Linked DNA regions of Homo sapiens. The protein of the gene in region 3 interacts with the protein of the main gene of each other region in a biochemical or structural test. Each region holds a gene or a part of one and is shown on either strand. Other genes may lie near its edges. The genes, in order: TAMALIN, CYTH2 and DOCK1.

Region 1 (7,481 bases), on a different chromosome or scaffold from region 3:
GAGGCAGGGCTGAGGACTGAAGGAGCCACCTGTGGGAGGGGTAAGAGCACAGACCCTGATAGAAGGGGTCTGAAGTGTGCCAGGTACAGCCAGCAGCGCAGCCAGAGCGGGGAGTAAGAAGCAGAGGCCGGCAGGGGTCAGACTCTCATCCTGGGAGGCCGGGCGCGGTGGCTCACGCATGTAATCTCAGCATTTTGGGAGGCCAAGGCAGGCAGATCACCTGAGGTCAGGAGTTCGAGACCAGCCTGGCCAACATGGTGAAACCCCGTCTCTACTAAAAATACAACAATTAGCTGGGTGTGGTGGCGCCTGCCTGTAACCTCAGCTACTCGGGAGGCTGAGGCGGGAGAATCACTTGAATCCAGGAGACAGAGGTTACAATGAACTGAGATCGGGCCACTGCACTCCAGCCTGGGCAACAGAGGGAGACTCCATCTCAAAAAAGAAAAATCTCATCCTGGGGTGGGAAACCGCTGAAGACTGCTAGAACAACAGAGTGAGCCGTGATTGGGCCCCTCACAGGCCAGGTGGTAATGCCTCAGGTCCCTACAGATCTGGCTTGTGCCCCTCAAGGGAGACCTCAGAAGCTGGGAAGAAAGGCATGCCAAGCACACGTATTTCTACAGGGATGGCTAAGGACTTGAGGCAAGCCTTGGTCACCACCTGCTTGGGTATCTGGGGAGGGAGGCTCAAGTTGTGAAGAAGCGTGGGGCCTCCAGCTCAGGCCCATACATGTAAGTTTAAATCTCCCAGCCTATTTCCCTGGCTTCAGGCTGCAAGAAAACAAGATGTGTGTGCGTTGGGCGGGGGTTGGGATGGTGGAGTCAGAGCTTGCCCCAGCCCAATCCTCCCCCTCAGGCAGTCACCACACTGACACAGATGCAAAAAACCATCCATTTATACAGTTTGTGGTTCAGAAGCAACAATATGCACAACGGTGGAACAGTCTGTGCTGTCCCCACCCCACCTGAACTCGCCAGTTCCTGTCTCCCAAGGGGCACAGAACACAGGCCCCCTGCCTGGCAGGACCCGACTTAGTTACAGGCCCCTGGGAGGGGCGAAGCCCTTAGGGGTCGAGGCCAGGAGGGAGGAGGACCAGCACCTGATGCCCCTGGGGGCCCGCTGGGTCATGGAACTGTGTGTGTGGAGGGTGGGGGGTCAGCCCACCACGGGCCATTTCTCCCCAAGGCTAAGGGCGGGGGAGCAAGTAAAGCTGAGGAGAGGGCTTCATGGGACAGGGTTCCCATCCCCTGCTGGGAGGGTGTTCCTGGATACCCCACAAGGCACTACAGATGCAGACTGTAGGCGAGCACCCCCATCTTTGGCCCCCGATTGCCTGGCTCTCCCCCTGCCCCAGCTCCCACTGTGGTTTGGCGGGGGAGAAGAGAAGGGGCTGGGCCCCCCACTCCCTCAGCAGACACCAGCCAGGAACCGACCCGGCGGGCCGAGGCTAGGAAGGACCCTCTCCCGCTGCTCTGGGCTCCTGGGGTCCTCTTGGCTCGGCCTCCCCCTCTTTTAGCGCTGGCTGTTGCGAATAAATAAATAAATACCTCCCTGCCCGCCCCCGCCCCTACAGCTGGCTCTCCTCCTCCTCCAGGGAGCGGTTGAGTCCGGGGATGAACTTGAGCAGCCGCCGGCGGAAGCTGCGGTACTTGGTTTTGCGCAGGCCGGGGCCGCATAGGGCCTGCTCGCGAGCCTCAGTCCAGAGCGCGCCCGGCGCGCCCCCGCCTCCGCCCCCGCCAGGGCCCGCGCACCGCACACTGGCGCTGCGGCTCAGCGCGGCCCGCGGCCCAGGGCCCGGCCCCACGGCAGGGGTCTCGGCGGGGCCCGGGCCGAAGGCGCGGGCCGGGGGCGGCGGGGGCGGCAGCGCCGGCGGCTCGGAGTCCCCGAAGAAGCACGTGTGGTAGACGGCGTCGTCGGCGTCGCCCCTGGCCCGTCGGGCGCCTCCGCGGGGACGCCCGGGCACGGCGAGCAGAGGCCCGAAGGGCAGCGAGCCCGGGAGCAGGCCCGCGCCGTAGAGGCAGGAGCGCACCGACTCCAGCGTGTCGTAGATGCTGGGGTCCTTCACCACCAGGCCTGCGCAGAGACGGGAGAGGTAGGGGGCGGGTCAGGCCTGGACCGTGGTGGCCTCTGCAAAGGGTCGGAGGGCATGGGCGGGGCGTCCCCGCTCCGTCCTGCTGACCATCTCTGTGGCCCTGGCCAGGCACAAACCTGAGACCCTACTTCCCTCACCCGCAAATCAGGAATTATCACTCAGATCCTTATGGGGGCCGCTTAGCACAAACGGGCCTCGGAAATAATTGACACAAACTCTTTGAGCCCTGGTGTTCCCCTCTGTAAAGTGAAGATGACACTATCTGTTACTTACCTGCAGAGGGCTAGTGTGAGAATAACCAGAAATGTGGCTGCGGCAGTACCCAAAGTAGTAGTAGCTCAACAAACCTTGCTTTACTGTGGAGGTTTACTAGTAAACCGTTCTTTACTAGAACCCGCCAGTTCTGAGGGGGAAGCGCAGATGGGGTGTCTGTAGCAGAACAAGTGGCCCCTCACACCCCGGGATCTACTCACCATGCACCAGCCGCTGCTCCTGCACCATTAGGGACCTGTACTCTCCCCACTTCTCATACAGGGTTTGCTGCAAGAGACAGTCCCCACCCCACTGTCACAAGCTAGCAGGAAACTAGCAGGACGTGGGTACAGACGAGGGATCAGGGAGTAGACAAAAGAAATCTTCAGTTACAGGAGATTCAGCTGTAAGTGACCCCCCACAGGGCAGAGGCTTGGGAAGAGGAGGGTGGAGGCTGGACGTTATCTAGGTTCCCCTACCTTCAGGTACTGCAGACGAGCCTCCAGTTCTGCCTTCCGAATTGATGTCCCATATAGAGTTTCCAGTCTGAGGTTGGAGAATCAAAGCCTGAGTGAGCCACAGGCTGAGGAAATACCAAGAGGCTGAGCTCAGGAATTCAGGCACCTCGGCTCCCAGACATACCTGAGAACATTGCCTGACGCCTTAATGATGTCCACAATCTCTCGATGCCGGATGCCTTCCACATTCAGGCCATTGACGCTGGCGATGGTGTCCCCTGCCAGGCAGACAAGGGGGTTAGATTTGCTCCATGGGGCATGCTAGAATACCAGCCTCCTACCTTAGCCAGAAAGGGGAGAAGGGTGGGTAGTAACTCCAGGGAATACTCCTGAACTCCCTCCTCCAACTCCTCATGGTTCTCTGTAGATCTCCTCTGACATCTCTCATACTCGATCCAAACACACAGAACCACAGCCATTCTTGTGGGCCTGTAGTGACTACCAGGTTGTCCACGCCCAGCACCCCAGCCAAAGGGTGGGGACCTCACACACCCAACACCCTCACTCTGCCCTCAAGAAGTTCTGTCCGGCCGGGCGCGGTGGCTCACGCCTGTAATCCCAGCACTTTGGGAGGCCGAGGCGGGCGGATCACGAGGTCAGGAGATCGAGACCATCCTGGCTAACACGGTGAAACCCCGTCTCTACTAAAAATACAAAAAATTAGCCGGGCGTGGTAGCAGGCGCCTGTAGTCCCAGCTACTCGGGAGGCTGAGGCAGGAGAATGGCGTGAACCCGGGAGGCGGAGCTTGCAGTGAGCCGAGATCGCGCCACTGCACTCCAGCCTGGGCGACAGAGCGAGACTCCGTCTCAAAAAAAAAAAAAAAAAAAAGAAGTTCTGTCCCAAAGCTAAGCCCACCCAGGACCCTGGGCTACCCTCAGATTTGGTTATTTCTGTCCAGTCCACGCTGGCCATAAGACCCAGTCAATTCAGGGAAGAGCAGGTGAGCAGCACCCAGCTGGGAACCGACCCTGGCCCCAGGCATGGCATGGCCTCATGGATCCACAGATAATCAGTCCAGCCTCTGGTGGTGGGAGAGAAGCACAGGGAATGACTGGCCCCCAGAGGGATAGTTCTGCTACCCTGCACCACTGGAGAGCTTCCTGACCTCAAGCACAGTGTGCCCCATGTCAGGGCCCCATTCCTATCTGTAAAAAGGGGTATGGATCCCTGCTGTGGATGCTTCAGGGATGATGGGGAGGGAGAGTGGATTTGAAACTACTTTGAGAAGTTGTAGTATACCACTTGGCTACTGCTACCATTTAAATATTGTTTGTCCCCAAAACTCATGTTGAGGCTTCATCCCCAACGTAACAGTGCTGAGAGATGGTAGGACCTTTAAGAGGCATTTGGGGCCGAGCGCCGTGGCTCACACCTGTAATCCCAGCACTTTGGGAGGCCGAGGCGGGTGGATCACCTGAGGTCAGGAGTTCGAGACCAGCCTGGCCAACAAGGCAAAACCCCATCTCTACTAAAAATACAAAAATGAGCTGGGCTTGGTGGCCAGTGCCTGTAATCCCAGCTACTCGGGAGGCTGAGGCAGGAGAATTGCTTGAATCTGGGAGGCAGAGGCTGCAGTGAGCTGAGATCATGCCATTGCACTCCAGCCTGGGCAACAAGAGCGAAACTCCATCTCAAAAAAAGTGGCATTTGGGCCATGAAGGATCTGCCCAGTGAAGGGATCCATGCTGTTTTTGGGGAGTGAGTTCTTGCTCTGGTAGGACTGGTTTAGTTACCTGGCGAGTGGGTTGCTATAAAGCAAGATCACCCATGTTTTGTCTCTTTTGCGTGTGCCTACTCACCACTCTTGCAGGCGTTCCTGCCATGAGATGCCATCCATCATGTCAGAACGCAGCATGAGGCCCTCACCTGATGCGGCCACCCAGTCTTGAACTTCCCAGCCTCCAGAACCATGAGCTAAATAAACCTCTTTTCTTTATAATTACCCAGTATCAGGTATTCTGTTATGGTAACAGAAAATGGACTAAGATAGCTAGCACGGGCTGCTGGTAAGTGGGAAGGAGGTAGGGGCTTAGGGGCAAAGATGGTGGAGGGGGGATTGATTCATACAGTTTCAGGCTGCCCTTCCTGGAACCTGGGGACTCTAGATCTGCTCAATCCAGGGATCTCCTGCTGAAGCATAATTTCCTTGTTAGAGGAAGTAACATATTGCTTTGGGAGGCAGAGGCAAGAGGAGGATCGCTTGAGCCCAGGAGTTCAAGGTTATAGTGAGTTATGATTACGCCACTGCACTCTAGCCTGGGTGACAGACTGAGGCCCTGTCTCTTAAAAAAAAAAAAAGTTTCTAATTTTTTAAAAGGGAGTAACATCGGTTCCTCAGCACTGGGCCCATTTTGGGGCAGGATTGGCCTGATCCCCAATATCAAACAGACTTAATGGAATGTTGCTTCTTCCCTGGCTCCTGCCCATGCTGACTGCCAGGGTTGCTGGGAGGAATCAGAGCAGCAGCAGCATCATCCACCATTAATTAGGCCCTGGCAGTGTGCCCAGGGAATCCCCTTGCCGCACTGTGATGTTTGGATGCATTATTACCCTCATTTTGTAGATGGGGCTGTGCAAGATCACACAGTACATGGCAAATTTGCCTAGATCCAAAGCCCAGATTCTATCCATTCTTCTTTCTGGCCTTCTCAAAGAAGGAAAAGGAAGAGGAATTGATTTCAGGAGAGATTGCTCACCCCCTTTGCTTGGGAGTAAGGTCATATCCCCTTCCCAGACCTGGGTGTCCTGGGCTCAGGCCCCACCTGGTGTGAGCCCAGCCAGCTGGGCAGGGCTAGACTCATGAACTCGGCAGACAAAGGTCACCATTTCCACACGCTGCTCCTCCCGGTGGTGAAGGCCATAAGTCTGTAATGGACAAGGGGACCCTCAGCCCAGGGTTGGGACAAGTCCGTTCATCCCTCAGGCTGGTCATCCAACCCCCCTGACCCCTGTGTGCAGCTTCTCCCACCTGGATCTCAAAGCCGAAGGTCTGGTTATCCTCCTTCTCCAACGTCAGCACTTTCCTGCAAGAGACACAGGGGTCAAGACAATTAGGATTAAAAGGTGTAGAAGTCCCATAGCTTGGGCCTCCCTGGATATTGGCAACTGGTCTAGAACATTCCAGCAGGACTCTGTCTCCAGTGACAGCTCAGTCTCATCACAGATTATTGGAATGTCTTTCCCATACCCAATTGAAATCAGCCTCATGGAGCCACAGAGAACCAATCCAGCCTCTAGTGGTGGGAGGGAAGCACAGAGAAGGGCCGGTCCCCTGAAGGATGAGCCGGCTGAGTTTTTTAGCCCCATCCCAGCTTTCCAGTGAGCCCTACAGTACCACTTACTGACTAGCTAAGGCCCGAAATTCAGCCACAGCCTGGAGCCTCCTCTGTTCCACAGCTTTGGAGAGAGGACTGGCCCCACCCCCAGAGGCCAGTCACGAGGCTCAGCAAGACCACAGCTGCTCCTCCCAGCTATGCTGGGGCCAGCCCACCAGATGTGGGGGCTGGGGGAGGGGAGCCTCGAGGCCGCCCCTTCCCGCACTGAAGGCCTGCCCGCTGGACACAATGGTCTGGAGCTGCTCCAGATCCTCGCCTGCTGGGGGAGCCCAGAGTTTCCTCTGCCCACTCCCACCCCCTTCCTTCCCGCCCAGCCAGAGGCACAGTTAAAGCAGCCTCCAAAGGCCCCTTCAAGTAGCTCAGCCTCGGAAAGGCCCTGGAGACCAGGCTTCTCCGCTTCCAGCCTGACCCAGAGATTCCCCCAAATGCTGAGCAGCACCTCCCCACTCCAGCTCGAGCCCCTCTCACTCTGAACAGCAGGCCTTTCCCCTCTCTGTACTATTGGGGCAGGGAGCAGGGTGGCTGGGAGTTCCGCGTCTACCCCAATGTTCTAGGGTTTTTTGGAAGGGTCAGCAAACTTTTTCTGCAAAGGGCCAAATGGTAAATACTTTAGGCTTTCTTTGCAGGCCCCTTATGATCTCTGTCATATATTGTTATTTGTTTTTATTTTTACAACTCTTTAAAAATTATTAGCTCAAGGGCCAAACAGGCCAATCTGGCTAGCAGGTCAGTTTGCTGATCCATTTTAGAGAAAGTCAAGCCCAAATCAGGGATGGGACATGAGTAGAGAAGGGAAACTGTGGGGTCCCAGGGCCTGGAGTCAGCACCTACTTCTGCCCACGCTCAGATCCCTCCTAAGAGGGCTGCCACAGGCTGGGACCAGAAGAGGACTGACATTCTGGAGGCAGGGGCAGCCAGCCCCAAGCAGCTGGACACAGCCTGGCTAAGGTCTGGGCCCGTGGGGTTTGCCAAGGCTAGGAGGGCTCAGGGGAGCCCAGGAGGCCTGGGTTAGGACGTTCCCCATAGACTTTGCCTACACCCCCTCCCAACTCCCACATCCGTTCATCCAGATCTCCCCAGGGAGGGGTAACTGGCAGGGACTGGGGGTGTGTTGAAGAGCACCTAATGACTCAAAAGTCCCTACCTCCTTTCTCTGCCACCCCCTTCACACAGCCCTCACCCCCACCTGCCCTCACTCCCAGCGGGGGAGCCATGTTTAAAGGCTAGGAGAATGACTACCCTCGCTAGGCTGAGATGCTGTCCTGGCACCCCCCAACCCA
Region 2 (8,037 bases), on a different chromosome or scaffold from region 3:
CTTATGCCTGTAATCCCAGTGCTTTGAGAGGCCGAGGAGGGAGGATTGCTTGAAGCCAGGAATTTGAGACCAGCCTGGGCAGCATAGTGATAACTCATCTCTAGAAAAAATATAAATAAATAAATTAGCCAGGTGTGTTGGGGCATGCCTATAGTCCCAGCTTCTGAGGAGGCCGAAGTGAGAGGATCCCTTGAGCCCAGCAGTTCGAAGCTGCAATGAGCTGTGATCACGCCACTGCACTCCAGTCTGCAATAGAGCGAGACCAGGTCTCAGAAAAAAGAGAAAATGTACTGAGCACCTGTGCCTTGCCAGACCCTGTTGTTGGTGCTGGAATTAACCAGGCAAAGGCAGAGAGGGTAGGCCATGAAGTGCAAAGGCCATGAGTTGGGAAGAATGCTATTTAAGACCTGTGAGAAGGCTGAAAATGAAACCTGGCCCTGGTCTGTTGAGGGTGGGGGTAGGTCTGGATGCTGAGGTTCCCAGGGAGGTGAGTGGGGTGGCTTTCTGGCCCTCAGCACTGAGACCTTGTCCCCACCCACCAGGGGATCCAGTTCTTGGTGGAGAATGAACTGCTGCAGAACACACCCGAGGAGATCGCCCGCTTCCTGTACAAGGGCGAGGGGCTGAACAAGACAGCCATCGGGGACTACCTGGGGGAGAGGTACGGTCACCACTCAGCTCCTGTGGGGCCCCTCCCTCCCACCCCCCAGACCCAGCTCCTGCCCTCACACTGGCAGCTCACAGGTGGAACAGCCCTGCAGCCTCCCCGCAGAGGGGCCCTGGCAGATCAGCCTTCTGACTGGACTGTGACAGAATGGACTGACATGGGCTAGGGGAGCCTGCGGCCAACCGAGAGCATCTGGGGATGTGGGGCCTTCTGGAATTACCTGGCAGTTGTGGGGAAGCATCCATTTATGTCTGAGAAGGGTAGAGAACATCTCTCAAGGATCATGGGAGCTTGAGAACCGTGGGTAGACCATGGCTGTGCATAGGCACTGGGTGGCCATCTGGGAGCTGTGGGGACCGCTGGGCCCTTGTGGGAGCTTAGGAGTTGTGGGGGTCATTTGGAAGCCTAGGGTGCACAGGACTGGACATCAGATGATTGGAGGCCATCTGTGGACGTCTGGGAATCAGGGATTTATAGAGATCTGGGGTGCTTGGGAAGCATCTCTGGATGTCTGGGGGATGTGGGGGCTGTGTCTGGATACCTGGGGAGCATGGGGATCATTTGAGAGAGGTGACAGTAGGTAGCATACATGTTTGCGGCATTTCTCCCAACTGTACAAAGGTCTGGCCTAAGCAGGGTTCCCAAGCCAGATATTCCTCCCAAGAGTGTGTTCTGAGCATCCCCCACCCTGGGGGCAGGCCTGTGTGGGAGTCCAGCAGGAAACTTCACCCTCGGCAGTGGGCAGCTGTGGTGCAGTAGAGGGGGCACGACTTCCCCAGGGCATTGCCCTTTGCCCATTCCTGCCCCATCCTTTCCAAACTGTATGTGTCTTTGTCCCATCCTTCCAGGGAAGAACTGAACCTGGCAGTGCTCCATGCTTTTGTGGATCTGCATGAGTTCACCGACCTCAATCTGGTGCAGGCCCTCAGGTGAGTGAGGGGGAGGGGTTTGGAACGCCAGGAATGTACCTGTCAGGGCCTTCCTAGTTACAAGTGACAAACCTTACTCAAGAAAAAAACAGAAACAAGCAAAACAGAAACAAAAACTAGGGAACTGAGTGTGTCCTGCACCATAAAAGTTCAGGGTTATGGCCTCCTTCAGGTATGGCTATATCCAGGAGCTCAAATGGTGGTCAGAAAGTCGACTTTCTTTGCCTCTTGTATTTGCCACTGTGTCAGCATTGCTCTCTGCAGACCCGCTTACCTGATAACAAGCCTCAACCAACCCCCAGACCTGTCTAGCGAACTTAGCAGAAAGAGGCTATTTCTGTAGGGATTCACAACACTCCCGTGGCCAATGCCCATTGGTGAGACTGGATCATGTGACCATACCTGAAACAACTGCTGAGGCCGGAAGGTCGGGATTCCTCGTGGACCAGTTCCTAACACAGGGACTGAGAGTGGGGACAGGCTCCCACCAGCCCTGGCATCCATTCCTGGCCCCTCCCCAACCCAGGCAGTTTCTATGGAGCTTTCGCCTACCCGGAGAGGCCCAGAAAATTGACCGGATGATGGAGGCCTTCGCCCAGCGATACTGCCTGTGCAACCCTGGGGTTTTCCAGTCCACAGGTGCGGGCCCCAAATCCTGGGTCCTGGGAAAGAGGAGACTGGGGCCCAGACTCCTAGGTCTGAGGGAGGGAGGGGGCTGGGAGCTGGGAATCCTGGGTCCTGGGGAATGGGGGCACTGGGGACTGACATGCCTGGGTCGTCACCACCTGCCCTGTCCGGTGCAGACACGTGCTATGTGCTGTCCTTCGCCGTCATCATGCTCAACACCAGTCTCCACAATCCCAATGTCCGGGACAAGCCGGGCCTGGAGCGCTTTGTGGCCATGAACCGGGGCATCAACGAGGGCGGGGACCTGCCTGAGGAGCTGCTCAGGGTCAGTCCCCCTTCCCTGCCCCTCAGCCCTGCCCCTCTTCCTGCCACAGACACCCCCGCCCCACCTGTGGTCTCCTAGTGCCCAAGCTGTCTGCCCTCACCCCCAAGATGGTGCGATCATGCCAACTCGTGTGTGATCTTTTTCTCTCTCTCTGGGTGCTTCTCTTCTTGACTGTCTCTCTCAGGCTTTGGCCCTGACAATTTTGGCCTGTCTGTCTTCTCTGTCTCTGGCTGTTGGGCTTTCCGGCCCTCGATTGGCCTCATTCCCCATCTGTCTGTTTCTCTGAGGACGTAGCCGGCTCCTCCACCTATCACCAGGGCATCTCTTCTTTCCTCCGCCACCTCAGCCTCCCTCCACTTCTCTGCCTTTCACTTCCCTCTCCTCCCCACTACCCCTCTCTCTTCCCCACTATGAGTCATCCCATCCCTGGTCTCGCTGCCCCCCACCCTGAGTAACCCTGGGGGGCCCCAGGGGGCTCGAATGGCTAATGCAGCCTTTACTCCTCAGAACCTGTACGACAGCATCCGAAATGAGCCCTTCAAGATTCCTGAGGATGACGGGAATGACCTGACCCACACCTTCTTCAACCCGGACCGGGAGGGCTGGCTCCTGAAGCTGGGTACGTGCCCTCCCGACCCCGCTGGTCCCTCCGCAGGAGGACATTTGTGGGCCTGGGCCCTGGACTCAGCTTCCGCACACACCTGCTGCCTGAACTGAGGCAAATGATTCGACCTCTCTGAACCTCAGTTTTCCACACCCAAAAAATGGGGCTGAAAATAAAATCAGGCCTGTGTGCTGGGCCTGGCCTGTAGTAAGTACTTCCCAACCCCTTCTCTTGACCCACAAATGTTGATGGAGCCCTTCTGTGCCAGGCCCTGAGCTGGGCTGAGGAGGCAGTGAGAGGCAGCTGACATTGTCCTTTCGTGGGAGAAGAGTTCACTCAGGCTTCTTTCCACTGCGTTAACCCAGCCCGAGGGAGCCAAACCCCTGGAATCTATTCCCCTTGGCAAGAACTCCCAGGGTTCCAGGCAGGACTGACCCCGCACTCCGAGGCATCAGGCCCAGAGCACTTGGCTGATCCAGGTGCCATCCTTCCCGAAACACCACCCACAGGCAGAAAAGAGCCAAACAGGCCAGGAAACCTGTCCCAGATTCTGGCTTCCAGCTGTGGAGGGAATAGCCAGGGCTGGTGCAGATGAGTCGGGAAACCCAGCAGAGATGGAGGGGGGAGTCTTCGTCATAACACGTGGCACTGGCACATTCAAGGTCGGTTAGCATGGATCAGACAGGATCGTAGCATGATGAGGGGTTAGCACAAGGACTAGAGTGGTTCTCAGCCCTGGCTGTACATGAGATTTGCCTGGGCAACTCGAAAACTCCGGTGGCTGGGCCATAGACTCCTGAAGTCAGGCTCTCAGGAGCAGAAGGGCCATCAGTCATCGTTTAAGCTCCTCGGGTGCTCCCAATGCATAGTCAAGGTTGAGAGCTACTGGCCTGGAGCCGTGCCTGGTAACAGTAGGTGCCACCTGCGTGTTAGATGTGGTTTATAATGGAGACACGGTGCACAGCTGCTCCAGAGAGACACATCTGGGCAGTTACAGTCCAGCACAGCAGTGGAGGCTTCCCGCGGCAGCAGGAGAGCCCACAGGAAGCTTTCAGCTCAGTGAAGGGAGTCAAGGTCAGGCTTCTTGGAAGGAGGTTGGACAGGGCAGCTTTGGCCTCTGAGTCTTGGGGGCCTCCCCATGTGGAACTGTGCTCTTAAACCAGGGCATCACCACCTCAACAGATGCCAGGGTTTCCTGGTAAATGTAAAATACACAAGTCAGGCAGGGCACAGGGGCCCACCCCTGTAATTTCAGCACTTTGGGAGGACAAGGCAGGAGGATTGTTAGAGGTCAGGAGTTTGAGACCAACCTGGGCAATATAATGATACCCCCCATCTCTACAAAAAATAAAAAAATTAGCCAGGCATGGTGATGTGGGAGGATTGTTTGAGCTCAAGTGGTCGAGGCTTCAGTGAGTCATGGTTGCGCCACTGCAGTCCAGCCTGGGCAACAGAGCGAGACCCCGTCTCTATAAAATAAAACATGCAAATCACTGTCCAGCCAACACCCCAGTCCAGATCCCTGCATTCGATCCAAGGGAGGCAGACTGCTGGGGGAAATTGAGAGTCCTCGAGGTGCCCCTGGCAGTGAGCGGGCCAGAAAGAGAAGCAGGAAGGCGCCAGCATCACGAGGAACTGCTTCCCTCAAAACTGCTGTCAGGCCAGGCACGGTGGCTCAGGCCTGTAATCCCAGCACTTTGGGAGGCTGAGGCAGGCAGATCACTTGAGGTCAGGAGTTTGAGACCAGCCTGGCCAACATGGTGAAACCCCGTCTCTACTAAAAATACAAAAATTAGCCGGGCGTGGTGGCAGGCACCTGTAATCCCAGCTACTTGGGAGGCTGAGGCACAAGAATTGCTTGAACCCAGGAGGTGGAGCTTGCAGTGAGCCGAGATCACACCATTGCAAATCCAGCCTGGACGACAGAGCGAGACAGTCTCAAAAAAACAAAACAAAACAAAAACTGCTCCTGTGAGCAGTAACTTTCCCATTTCCCAGAGGCTCACGCCTCAGTTTGGTTCTGAGCCCCACCTAAGGCTGCCCAGCCCCAGGGACATCTCTGACCAAAGGGCCTCTGTTCCCTTTGTGCCAGTTAGAGGGACCCCTTCCTTAAAAGATGGAAATACAGGAGTGGAGATTGGTGATGGTGGTTGCTACTCCATGCCTAATAAAAGCCATTCTTACTGTCATTGTTTAACCCTGGGCCCACAAGGAAGCCAGCAGCAGGTCATTTTGCCACAGGAAGGTGTAGGCCCGAGTGAGTCTCCAGGCTGGAGTCCAGAGAGTCCAAGAGAGTGCCCTGAGGTCACACAGCCAGTTTGTGCAGGAGCTGAGATGGGCCCTCACACCCACCTCAGACCAAGGGCTGGGGGTTTTGCCTTCTGTCCTGTGGGGGCCTCCTCCAGGGCAGAGGCACTTTTACCATGTCAAGGGAGGATGCTCCTGGCCTAGGACAGACCCTAGGGGGTAGGCTGGGGCCCTGTACCGAAGCAAGGGGTTTTCAAGGCTGCCACCCGGGGCTCATGGCCCTTGGCCTCTCTGGGAGGGAGGAGCCCCGGCCATCCCCACCCTCGTGGATGTAACTGGTTTTCTTCCCTCTCTCTCCCTCCCCTCCTCTCTGCGTCTTTCCCTCTCTCCTGTGTTTGCCTCTCTGTCCTGCCCCTGCGCACCCCTCCCTGTGCCCACCCTGTTTCTGTCGCCTGCGGCTCTTGGGGGTGCTCCATTCTCCCGCCTTCCCTTCTCCTGCACCTGGTCCTGCCTGCTTTCTCGCTGTCTGCCCCAGGAGGTAGGTACACGACCTGTCTTTGTCTCCCATCACTAGACGAGGGGAGGGGGCTGCCCTGGCGCCCTGGCGCCCTGGCCTCCTGCCCACAGGAGGAGGGGGCTGGGGGCTCAGGCTCCTGGGCTGGGACTGACAGACTCAGAAAATGTGGAGCCCCAAGCTGGGGGTGGACGATTCCTGGAGCCCCAACATGCCTGGCCCTGCTTGTCTGTCTCCCCCAACGCAGCGGCTTTGTCTAGGCCCCAGGAGCCCCACCTCTACCGCTCTTGCTCTGCTTCTCACGCCCCTCCCATCTCCCAGAGGCCCTGTCCCCCTGTTGAGCCCAGGCCCCCTCCCACCCCTTCCCTTTCAGGGGGCCGGGTGAAGACGTGGAAGCGGCGCTGGTTTATCCTCACAGACAACTGCCTCTACTACTTTGAGTACACCACGGTGAGCGTGACCCGACCCGGGCTCTGGGGTCCTGGGCGGAGTGGCTGGGAGCCTGGACTCCTGGGGCTGAGGGAGGTGGGGTGGGGTGAGGACTTGGAAGTCTGAGTTCTGTCCACCTTGCTTCTTCAGGACAAGGAGCCCCGAGGAATCATCCCCCTGGAGAATCTGAGCATCCGAGAGGTGGACGACCCCCGGAAACCGGTAAGACCCTCTCTGTACACCTTCCTGCCAGGGCGGGGCCTCCTCTGCCCAGGGCTGGTTCTTACCTGCGCCCTTCCTCTCTCGTCCCCAGAACTGCTTTGAACTTTACATCCCCAACAACAAGGGGCAGCTCATCAAAGCCTGCAAAACTGAGGCGGACGGCCGAGTGGTGGAGGGAAACCACATGGTGTACCGGATCTCGGCCCCCACGCAGGAGGAGAAGGACGAGTGGATCAAGTCCATCCAGTGAGCCTGGACTCCTGGGCCTGATGGAGGAGGGGCTGGGGCCTGGACTCCTGGGTCTGATGGAGGAGGGGCAGGGGCCTGGATGCCTGGGTCTGATGGAGGAGGGGCTGGGGCCTGGACGCCTGGGTCTGACGGAGGAGGGGCTGGGGCCTGGACTCCTGGGTCTGACGGAGGAGGGGCAGGGGCCTGGACACCTGGGTCTGACGGAGGAGGGGCCGGGGGCCTGGACCCCTGGGTCTGACGGAGGAGGGGCCGGGGGCCTGGACTCCTGGGTCTGACGGAGGAGGGGCCGGGGGCCTGGACTCCTGGGTGTGAGGGAGGAGGGGCCGGGGGCCTGGACTCCTGGGTCTGAGGGAGGAGGGGCCGGGGGCCTGGACTGCTGGGTCTGAGGGAGGAGGGGCCGGGGGCCTGGACTCCTGGGTCTGAGGGAGGAGGGGCCGGGGGTCTGAGACTCCTCCTGGGTATGAGGGAGGAGGGGCTGGAGGCCTGGACTCCTTGGCCCTCATCCTGGGACCCCTCCCCTTCTGCAGGGCGGCTGTGAGTGTGGACCCCTTCTATGAGATGCTGGCAGCGAGAAAGAAGCGGATTTCAGTCAAGAAGAAGCAGGAGCAGCCCTGACCCCCTGCCCCCAACTCCATTATTTATTACGGAGCTGCCCCGCCTGGGTGGCCGGACCCCTGGGCCTTGGGGCTGTGGATCCTGGTTCCCTGTTTGGAAAATTCACCACCTCTAGCTCCTCACTGTTCTTTGTAATTAACACGCTGTTGGTAATCTTATTAATTATTTAACCACTTGGCCTGCTGACCCCCTCATTTCTTGGGGTTGACAGAGTCGAGGTGCTCCGTGGAGCCAGCCTGTTTCCCTGGACAGGGGCCTGGACCCGCCTGTCTCTGGGTGCTGCCTGGGCTGTCCCGGTGGGTCTGTTCTGGTTTCACCCCGAGCCCAGCAGGAGTGGAGTAAAGGGAGAAGGTTAATATGGTGGGAGTCTGGAGTTGGAATTGGCCGGGGACAGAGTTTAGAATGCAGGGATTCAGGGTCAAGGTCTAGCATTCATTCTAGAAGTTACTTGACAGCCATCAGCCAGTTACGCTACAGCCATCAGCTAGTTCCCATCGTTGCTTTCATGGGGCTTGAGGTCTTTGAGGGGCAGGAGATGAAGCTGGTGAGGTTGTGAGCTGGGCCAGGGCTTTGAGGACAACCTGGAGCTGGAAGAACATGCGACCACCT
Region 3 (8,282 bases):
AGTATTTTAAATAACAAATACAATGACGGTTCACTTCTAAATACTCCAGCATGCAGCTCTAAAATTTAAGGATCTTTTCCCACCTAACCATAACAACTATTATTATACTTAACAAAATAAAAAAAATACATCATCTAACACCAGTCCATAGTTCAAACCACCTCTTGCCCTTGACATTTTTTTAGTGTTGGATAATTAAAGCAGTTTCCAATTAAGGATAACACAGTGCATTTAAATGTTGTATTTCTTTTCTTTTCTTTTTTTGAGATGGAGTCTTGCTCTGTCACCCAGGCTGGAGTGCAGTGGCGCGATCTCGGCTCACTGCAAGCTCCGCCTCCCGGGTTCACGCCATTCTCCTGCCTCAACCTCCTGAGTAGCTGGGACTACAGGTGCATGCCACCATGCCCGGCTAATTTTTTCTATTTTTAGTAGAGACGGGGTTTCACCATGTTAGCCAGGATGGTCTCGATCTCCTGACCTCATGATCCGCCCACCTCGGCCTACCTAAGTGCTGGGATGACAGGCGTGAGCCACCGCGCCCGGCCAAATGTTGTATTTCTTACATCTTTTAAAATCTAGAACAGCTCTTCTCCACTGGCCCCTTCTTGCTCTATAATATTGACTATTGAAGAGACCAGACTACTACCTGAAAGAATATTCTACCTTCTGGCTTTGTTTCAGTGTCTTTTTTTTTTTTTTTTGAGATGGAGTTTCACTCTTGTTCCCCCAGGCTGGAGTGCAATGGCACGATCTCTGTTCACTGCAACCTCGGCCTCCCGGGTTCCAGTGCTTCTCATGCCTCAGCCTCTTGAGTAGCTGGGATTACAGGTGCCTGCCACCATGCCCAGATATTTTTTTTTAGTAGAGATGGGGTTTCACCACGTTGGCCAGACTAGTCTTGAACTCCTGACCTCAGGTGATCTGCCCATCTCGGCCTCCCAAAGTGCTCAGAGTTACAGGCATGAGCCACGGTGCCTGGCCTGTTTCACTGTATTTCTTATGGTGTCACTTGTTCCTCAACCTCCTCTATTTCCTGTAAGCACGAAGTTGGGTCTAAAGTCTTGAATATACACTTTTGGGCTGGGTGGCATTGTGCATTGTGACTACATGCCTGGTCATCCAGTATGATGCCCAGATCTCCCACTGAATCCAAGAGGCAGTGGGCATAGGCCTTGTTCCTCTCCTTTCAAAGGGCAAAAAATCTGTGGTCAGGCCCCTTTTCCTGCATAAAATCTCCACATCCCTGTTCCATTCTCATCTCTCCCCACCGACTGAGAAACATGCCCCATTGACTCACTGTGCCTTCTGGTACCTCCACCAGGCAAGATTTTGCTGAATTTACCTCCTGAATTTGCAGTGCACATGTGTGAAATTTTTTGGAATTAAAAAAATTAAAACTGTACTTTTCAAGATTTAAAACTGTAATATTGATTGTGTTCTTCATGGCCCCAAAGCAAGATTCTGTTGTATCTTGGAGGAGGGGGGTCACTACTCTGAAATCCCAGTGATGGGCAGCACTGAGCAACTGAGAGCCTCAGCATTCTTGGGCTTGTTCACACCCACAAGCTTGGCACAGATCCAAGTCCTGCAAGATGCCTGGGAGGGCAACTGAGACCTGTGGCCCAGCCACATTGACTCAGGAGGTAAAAATGTCAACAGGCCACAACCTCCAGGGCTCCTGGAATTGGAGACGAAGCCAGTTCTGAGCTTATGCAACCATAGGACAGTGAGAGAGGGCCATGGACTCGATTTAGAGCCACAAGATGAGAGCACTGCTGGAGCACCGTGGGGATGCTGACAAATCTTCTCAGGGCTTCAAGGACCGTGGCTACAGGTACATCTCAGCCAAACTTGGGCACATGTTGCAATCAAGGGACTGAAGCTACAACCACCTGGCCCGTGGTCCACCTGGAGTTTTGTTTTGTTTGTTTTTGAGATGGAGTCTCACTCTGTCACCCAGGCAGGAGTGCAGCGGTGCGATCTTGCTTCACTGCAATCTCCACCTCCTGGGTTCAAACAATTCTCCTGCCTCAGCCTCCTGAGTAGCTGGGACTACAGGTATGCGCACCCACGCCCAGCTAATTTTTGTATTTTTAGTACAGACAGGGTTTCTACTAAAACCCTGGTTGGCCAGGCTGACCTCGAGCTCCTGACCTCAAGTGATCTGCCTGCCTCAGCCTCCCAAAATGCTGGCTGGGATTACAAGCATGGGCCACTGTGCCCGGCCCCACCTGGAGTTTTAAAATTCTGATTTATAAATTTATTATATGACAGTCTACCAAAAGTATGCAAATCCGGCACTACACTTATTTATGCATTCAGTGAGTCACCTTTATCTGAGTGCAAGTGGCAACTGTTCTAGAAAATGGGAACCATGAGGTTATCAAAGAACCTGGAGGTAGGGTCAGATGAGGAAGCACATCATTATGATGTCTTACACATGCAGTCATGTCTCCTCTTATAATCCTAAGACTCACCTGTGAGATTCCTATTACAGCCCCTAGTTTACATGTAGGAATATCAGAACCCCAAGGTTTAGAAACAGAACGGCCAGAAACAGGAGGAGGATGGCCATGCAGCTGGGCGTGGCAAGGCCAGGCCTCCCAAGTCTGCATGACTCTTAAGCTCCTGGCCATTCGTTACAGCACGCCATCTCCAATGCAGAATCACACCAACAGAACTGAAACTGCACATTAAAGAGAAGGCGAGTGTCACCAAAATCTGTTTCCCAGGCTTCTTTGCAGAATTCCAAATTCCTAGCACGACCAATAAGGCCCTTCTTCTACCTCTGCAGCCTCAATTTATGTCACTTTCCTGTTGTTCCCTATGCTTCGGCCATCCTGGCCTTTCTGTGCTCTGAAGGAGTGGTGCTCCTTCCTAAACCAGGGCCTTTTCACGTGCTGTTCCCACTCCAGTTCACCTAGCTGGTTTCTGCTTATCCTTAAAGTCTGGGTTTATCTTATTTCCTCAAGGGAGGCCTCCCTGCTCTGGAGCAGGTCAGGCCACCATGTCCTTTACCGTAGAGCACCCTACTTGTCCTGGACAGCACCTTCACAGATGCTTCTCCTTCAAGGGGTCAGAGTCACCAGGCCACCACTACAGCGCCTGAGCCCCGGAGGTTTCTGATTTCCACAGAAAGCTTCAAGTGCATGCTGTGTGTGAGTGAGCCTGGCCACTTCCTCTGTGGGACTTCAGTTCCTTATCAGTAAAACAGAGCCCGTGGCTTTCCATGAATGTGGGGTTGACTTACCAGAATGCTCAGGTCCCACGTTATCCTCTTGAACGCAGCAGCTTTCCTCTAACCCACGAAAATGGAAAAGCTCCTGTGCCATTCCCAAATACTTATTTAATCTGCATTCTGGGTGGCCCCTAGGGCAGGTGACGGGCATTCTCTACCGCAGGATGGTGCCCCACCTGGTCCTCCCCAGGCCCTGTGGCCATCCTGGCCACCTCCCTGTGGGCTCTCCCAGCCCTGCTGTTCAGCACTGTCCCTACCTCACAGAGGTAGGGACCTCTTTTTCTTACCTTCTTCCTTTTCTTACCTTCGTTCCTCCAATCCCTGACGGCCCCCAGACCTACTGTAGTTGTCTCTGTGTCTTCGGAGAGAAGACACCCCATTAATGTGCCATGAAACCAAATTTATTCCATTTAAAGGGCTGCCTTCATTCGGAGGCTTTGTCCATGTCTTGGTTTTAACCTCTCTTTTCTGAAATTACAGTAAAAATAAATAGGTGTGTGTTGCTTTAACTTTTCCCTTGGAGAAATCTGAAGCCCCCACCTTTTACTGTCATGGGAAACACCAGGGCCTGAGAAGAACTCCCACCTCGGGCGAGGATGCCGTTCCTGAGCCCCACGCGTGGCCTGGGCTTTCCTTTCCCTACTTCTCTCTTCCCCCGACTTCAGCAGATCCTGAGTCCCACAACTATTCTAGCATTAGCTTCTGCAAGCCCAGCTGGGCTGAGGTTTCTGCGGCTGCTTCCTCTTGGTCTCTCTGGAAAACTCCACTCATTCAGCACCCAAGCAAGAGGTCACCTGTCTGGAACGCACTCCCTCGGCAGCGCTGTGCCACCTCTTTCCACCCCATTTGAGTGGCCGGCACTTACCTGTGCTGTTTGTTACCTGACGTGTCCCTTCTCCCACCTACCAGGCAGTTGGTGCGGCGCTCCCAGCACACTCGGGCAATGAGTGGGCAGGCGCTCAGGTAACGTTTGTCGAATGAATGAATGAGCCACGTGCTCAGGAGGACCCTTTCCAGAGCCTCTGCTGGTTTGTTCTGCTCCGGGACTCTCCACCAGGGAGAAATCCGAGCTGGGGACCTCGCACCACCAGGCTCCGGCCTAAGCCCGCGCCTTGCAAGCCGCCCGTTTCCTACCTCCCGTAGAAACCCCCCGTCCGTCCCGCCCCCCTAAGGGCGCACCCCTCTCACGGCGTGAGCGCCAGCCCCGGGAGCTCCAGGAACTCAGGAGAACCCCGCGGGGGTGCCCGGGTGCGGAGCGCGGGGCTGGGCGCACTGGGACAGAGGAAGGGGAGCCCCGGCGACCGCGGGGTCGGGGCCCAGGGTCCGCGCCGAGGGCGGGCGCAGAGCCCGCGGCCGTCCCGCCTCCCGCCGGCGCTCCCGGCCTTTCCCATCCGGCCCGCGACGCTCCGCCCGCCCCGTCCCACATGACGCCGCCTCCGCCGCAAACTTTTTCCTCCCCATCCTGTCGCGGCTCGAAAGGAATGGAAAATGGCGGCCTAGACGCGGAGTTTCCTGCCCGACCCGCGGCGGCTCCGGCGGCGCCATGACGCGCTGGGTGCCCACCAAGCGCGAGGAGAAGTACGGCGTGGGTGAGCAGCGCCGCCGCCGCCGCGCCTCTCGCCCCAAGCCCAGGCTCCGGCGGGGCGGGTGTGCCGGGCGCCTGTTGCCGCCGCCCCGAGCGGCCGCCGGGCCGGGGAGAGGCGCTTCCGCCCGCGCCCGCGCCGCCGCCCCGCTCGCAATGCCCGGCGACCCCGGCCGCCCCGCGCCCCCGGCGGCGTCAGCTCCAGCCCCGGGGATGCGGGTCGGGAACACGAGGGGGTGGGGTGGGAATGGGGGCGGGCGCGTCCCTCCCTAGGGTGTCCCCTCCGACGCCCGCTCCTCTGGACCTCTGCCGTGGAGCCCCCCGGGCTACCCCCAACTCCCCGGCCCCGGCCGCTGCTATCTGCGCGGCTGGGCCCGTCAGGGAAGCCCAGGGGTCACTGTCTCGCGGCGGCTTCTGCTTCTTGGATGAACTTGCGTCCCGCGTCCGGGCTCTGGGTGGGCGGGCTCAGGTCGGCGCGGTCCCAGCGGATAATTCCGCCCTTTCCCGGCGGGGAGGAGGGGGCGCGACCTGGGTGGCCAGCGCCCCTTGCCCCTCGGCGGTCTCGCTGGGGACCGTGTGGGACCTTGGAGAGAAGGCGAGCGGCCGAGCGCCCCAGTGGCCCCAGGCCTGGAGACCCTTCCGGGAGAGCGGGGGCCTGTTTTTGCTCCGCGGCTCTTTGTCGCTTCCGAGGGGGGATGGAAGGAGTCGGGTTGCAAGTTTACATTTCGGACCCGAGTGCGCATTCCTGAGAGGGAGGCTTTCCCTTGCGGCTGAATAGACGGGCCCGTCCGCGTGGGACCCGCATCCTTGCGCCCCGGGGACCCGCAGCCGGTCGCCGAGGCCTGCGGACGCCCACCTCTTCGTGATCTGCGCGCCTGGTGTCGGGACTGGGCCGTGGCTACTCTCCTGCTCTCCCGGGTCCGGGATCTTCCCAGTTGGTTTTCGGGCTTGCTATTCCCCGTCCCACCATCCACAGACATCCTTGACCGCCTGCCTCATCCAGGCCACTCGACCCGACTGGGAAGACCTTTGGTGGTCTCGCCTCCCACAGCCCAGGCTGTGTCCTCCAAGGGCACCGTCTCAGCAGCAGCCCCGCGCCCATTCTGTGCCTGGCCCGTGCTGGACCTGCCCGACCCTCTGCTGGTGTGGTTCGAATCCTGGCTCTCTGACTTTTGGGAAGCGCCCTGGCAGCCCTTGTCCCCGGAGCGCTCTCCTTTCTGTGAACAGTTGCTTCTCTCTGCTGTCAATGACTTACAGTATGCCCTGACCACGGAGCCAGCTGGACAGTGGTCACGGGGACAGTCCTGGGACAGCCCTGGGTCCTACCGGGCCTGCACTTAGCTTGTTCCACATGCTGGGAGGCATAGGGGGCCTCCTTGCTTCAGGACCATTATGACTGAGCTTCCTCCCCATCTCCCCATTTTGCAGATGAGGAAACTGAGGCCCAGACACATTCACAAAAGTGCAGGAGAGCTCATCTGACTGCAGACTCAGTGTGTAACCTGCACCCTGTGCACCACCTAATGGATTCAGTCTGGGGCACTTGGCACGGGCCTTCAGTCTGCATCAGAGGCGAGAGGTTCGGGGTGGATATTCCACCTGAGAATGCTTGGGTTGTGGCGACAGTGGGGGTCCCTGCGGGGGTAGTGTGTAGAGGAGAGAGCTGAGGACTGACTCCCAGGGAACCTAGCACCAGCACACGCAGAGAGAGAGGAAGAGGTGGATAGGCAGGAGAGGCAGGAGGCTGGCAGAGGAGCAGGCATCCCATAGCCCTGGCCCTGCTGAGGAAGCAACTTAGGTGCCCATGGCCAGGGTGCAGTAGTGGCCATTGGGGGTGTAGTGGGGGCCATCGGGGTGCAGTGGGGGCCATCACTGCTCCCATTCTACAGAGGCAAGGAAGAGGTGGATTGCTTGCCTGAGGTCACATCACCAGTAAGTGGTGCCTCCTGGGTGTGAAGTGTGGCCGCCCTGGGTTCAGCTGCCACAGTGTCCTGTGCTTGCCTGCAGATGGGGAGGGCTTCTCTTTGGGACGCCACATTTTAAGAGACCTTGTTACCCTTCGTCTGCCCCCAGAGAGACCTGGATGGTGTCAGTTAGGATCCTATAGTGTAGCTGGATGGTCTGGAGAAGACTGAAAAGAATGTTCGTAGATGGGAGAACGGGGTCTCCTTGCTGGGGAGGAGGCTGAGGGCCAGAACAGGGCGGTGCGCTTGAGTCTCACACCTTCCAGAAGCTTCACCAGCGCTCATGGTGGTGACTTCTAACATCACACCTCTTGCTAATACTTTGGTTTTAAGAAAACTCCATGTTTGATTATTAAGAAAAAATAAATTTAAAAAAGTTAAAAAAAGAAAAAATAGAAAACTGTTGGAAAATTTTAAAAGGCGAAAAGTATCTGGGATGGTTTTGCCAGGAAATGCTAGGAAAGATGTGAAGGGCTGAAGGTAGAGAAGAGAGTGGCTGCTGTGCTTCCTCTCACTGGGTGCAGATGACAGCTTGCTGGGTAGACAGTAATGAGACAGCACCACTCCATCGGCATCCAGAGGCACTTTAACCAGAGTCCCCCATCAGGGAGGGTGGGAGGGGAGCTGAGCATGAGCGCAATGGGGCCATCCCAGGCTCCCCACTTGTCTGCAAGTGTGCAGTGGGAGGATTTTAGTGGTTCTCACGAAGGATGCTGACTGGGAAGGATGTAGGTGCTGGGATGTAGGGATTTATTGCCAGTAGGTGATTGGCTGTTTCCACCTAAGGGAAAATTACTGGAGGACCCCTCCACCATCCTTACCAACTCCAGCATTTTTCGGAGCTTAACAACAGGGCTGTGTTTCCCTGGAGGCGCTCTGGTGGCTCTGTGGGTGGACCACACTTCCACTCTGGCCACTTGGCCCATGAACGAATCACGAGGGGTAAGAAAATGATAAAACTCCATCTCATTTGGAAACATGAATCACAGCTTATTGTTTGCAAGTACTTGGAATCTGTTAGAAGCATTGTTTGTAAATGAGATACTTCAGTTGTATATTTATTTTGTAAAATTGGGAAAGGAGTAAACAGCTGATCTGGGGTTCCTTCTGCAAAGGCAGGAAATGCTGGTTCCTCCCAATTCATTCCACTGGGGGCTGCCTGTGAAATTTACCAGCCCGCGTTTCCCCCTTGGTTTTGAGTTGGTGGGTCATGTTTACGGGCCTGGCATATTAACAGGCATAAACCTTGACTCAGCTGTCACACTGGCCAGATGATCTTTTCTCTCACAGCCCAGTAGGCAGTTTTATGTCCCGACGTCAATAAAATTATGTTGCCATGGATCCTGTTCCTAAGATTAGGTGAAAAGATGCAGTATGTTCTAGAATCACACGTGAGGACCATGTGCTCACTCACTCACATCTCAACAATGGTGTTGAAGGCAGAATAATGGTCCCCAAAAAGGTCCACGCCCTAATCCCCAGACTCTGTGAATTCAAT

What was found.
Region 1: the proteins of DOCK1 (region 3) and TAMALIN form a complex in vitro, tested with the Homo sapiens proteins (one study listed by BioGRID).
Region 2: the proteins of DOCK1 (region 3) and CYTH2 form a complex in vitro, tested with the Homo sapiens proteins (one study listed by BioGRID).

What each region holds. Positions count from the first base shown.
Region 1 is NC_000012.12:52,009,289-52,016,769, reverse strand, and holds the end of TAMALIN (protein TAMALIN), read right to left. Parts: intron 6,279-7,481; exon of another isoform or gene 6,208-6,278; intron 5,890-6,207; coding exon 5,835-5,889; intron 5,732-5,834; coding exon 5,629-5,731; exon of another isoform or gene 5,588-5,628; coding exon of another isoform or gene 5,563-5,587; intron 3,084-5,562; coding exon 2,990-3,083; intron 2,894-2,989; coding exon 2,827-2,893; intron 2,636-2,826; coding exon 2,569-2,635; intron 2,077-2,568; coding exon 1,571-2,076; 3' UTR 881-1,570; downstream 1-880. UniProt on the Homo sapiens protein: Plays a role in intracellular trafficking and contributes to the macromolecular organization of group 1 metabotropic glutamate receptors (mGluRs) at synapses.
Region 2 is NC_000019.10:48,471,783-48,479,819, forward strand, and holds part of CYTH2 (cytohesin-2), read left to right. Parts: intron 1-542; coding exon 543-661; intron 662-1,515; coding exon 1,516-1,596; intron 1,597-2,122; coding exon 2,123-2,235; intron 2,236-2,399; coding exon 2,400-2,548; intron 2,549-3,055; coding exon 3,056-3,167; intron 3,168-5,934; coding exon of another isoform or gene 5,935-5,937; intron 5,938-6,286; coding exon 6,287-6,363; intron 6,364-6,492; coding exon 6,493-6,564; intron 6,565-6,655; coding exon 6,656-6,810; intron 6,811-7,340; coding exon 7,341-7,428; 3' UTR 7,429-8,037. UniProt on the Homo sapiens protein: Acts as a guanine-nucleotide exchange factor (GEF). Promotes guanine-nucleotide exchange on ARF1, ARF3 and ARF6. Activates ARF factors through replacement of GDP with GTP.
Region 3 is NC_000010.11:126,900,737-126,909,018, forward strand, and holds the start of DOCK1 (dedicator of cytokinesis protein 1), read left to right. Parts: upstream 1-4,691; 5' UTR 4,692-4,781; coding exon 4,782-4,827; intron 4,828-4,994; exon of another isoform or gene 4,995-8,282. UniProt on the Homo sapiens protein: Involved in cytoskeletal rearrangements required for phagocytosis of apoptotic cells and cell motility. Along with DOCK1, mediates CRK/CRKL regulation of epithelial and endothelial cell spreading and migration on type IV collagen.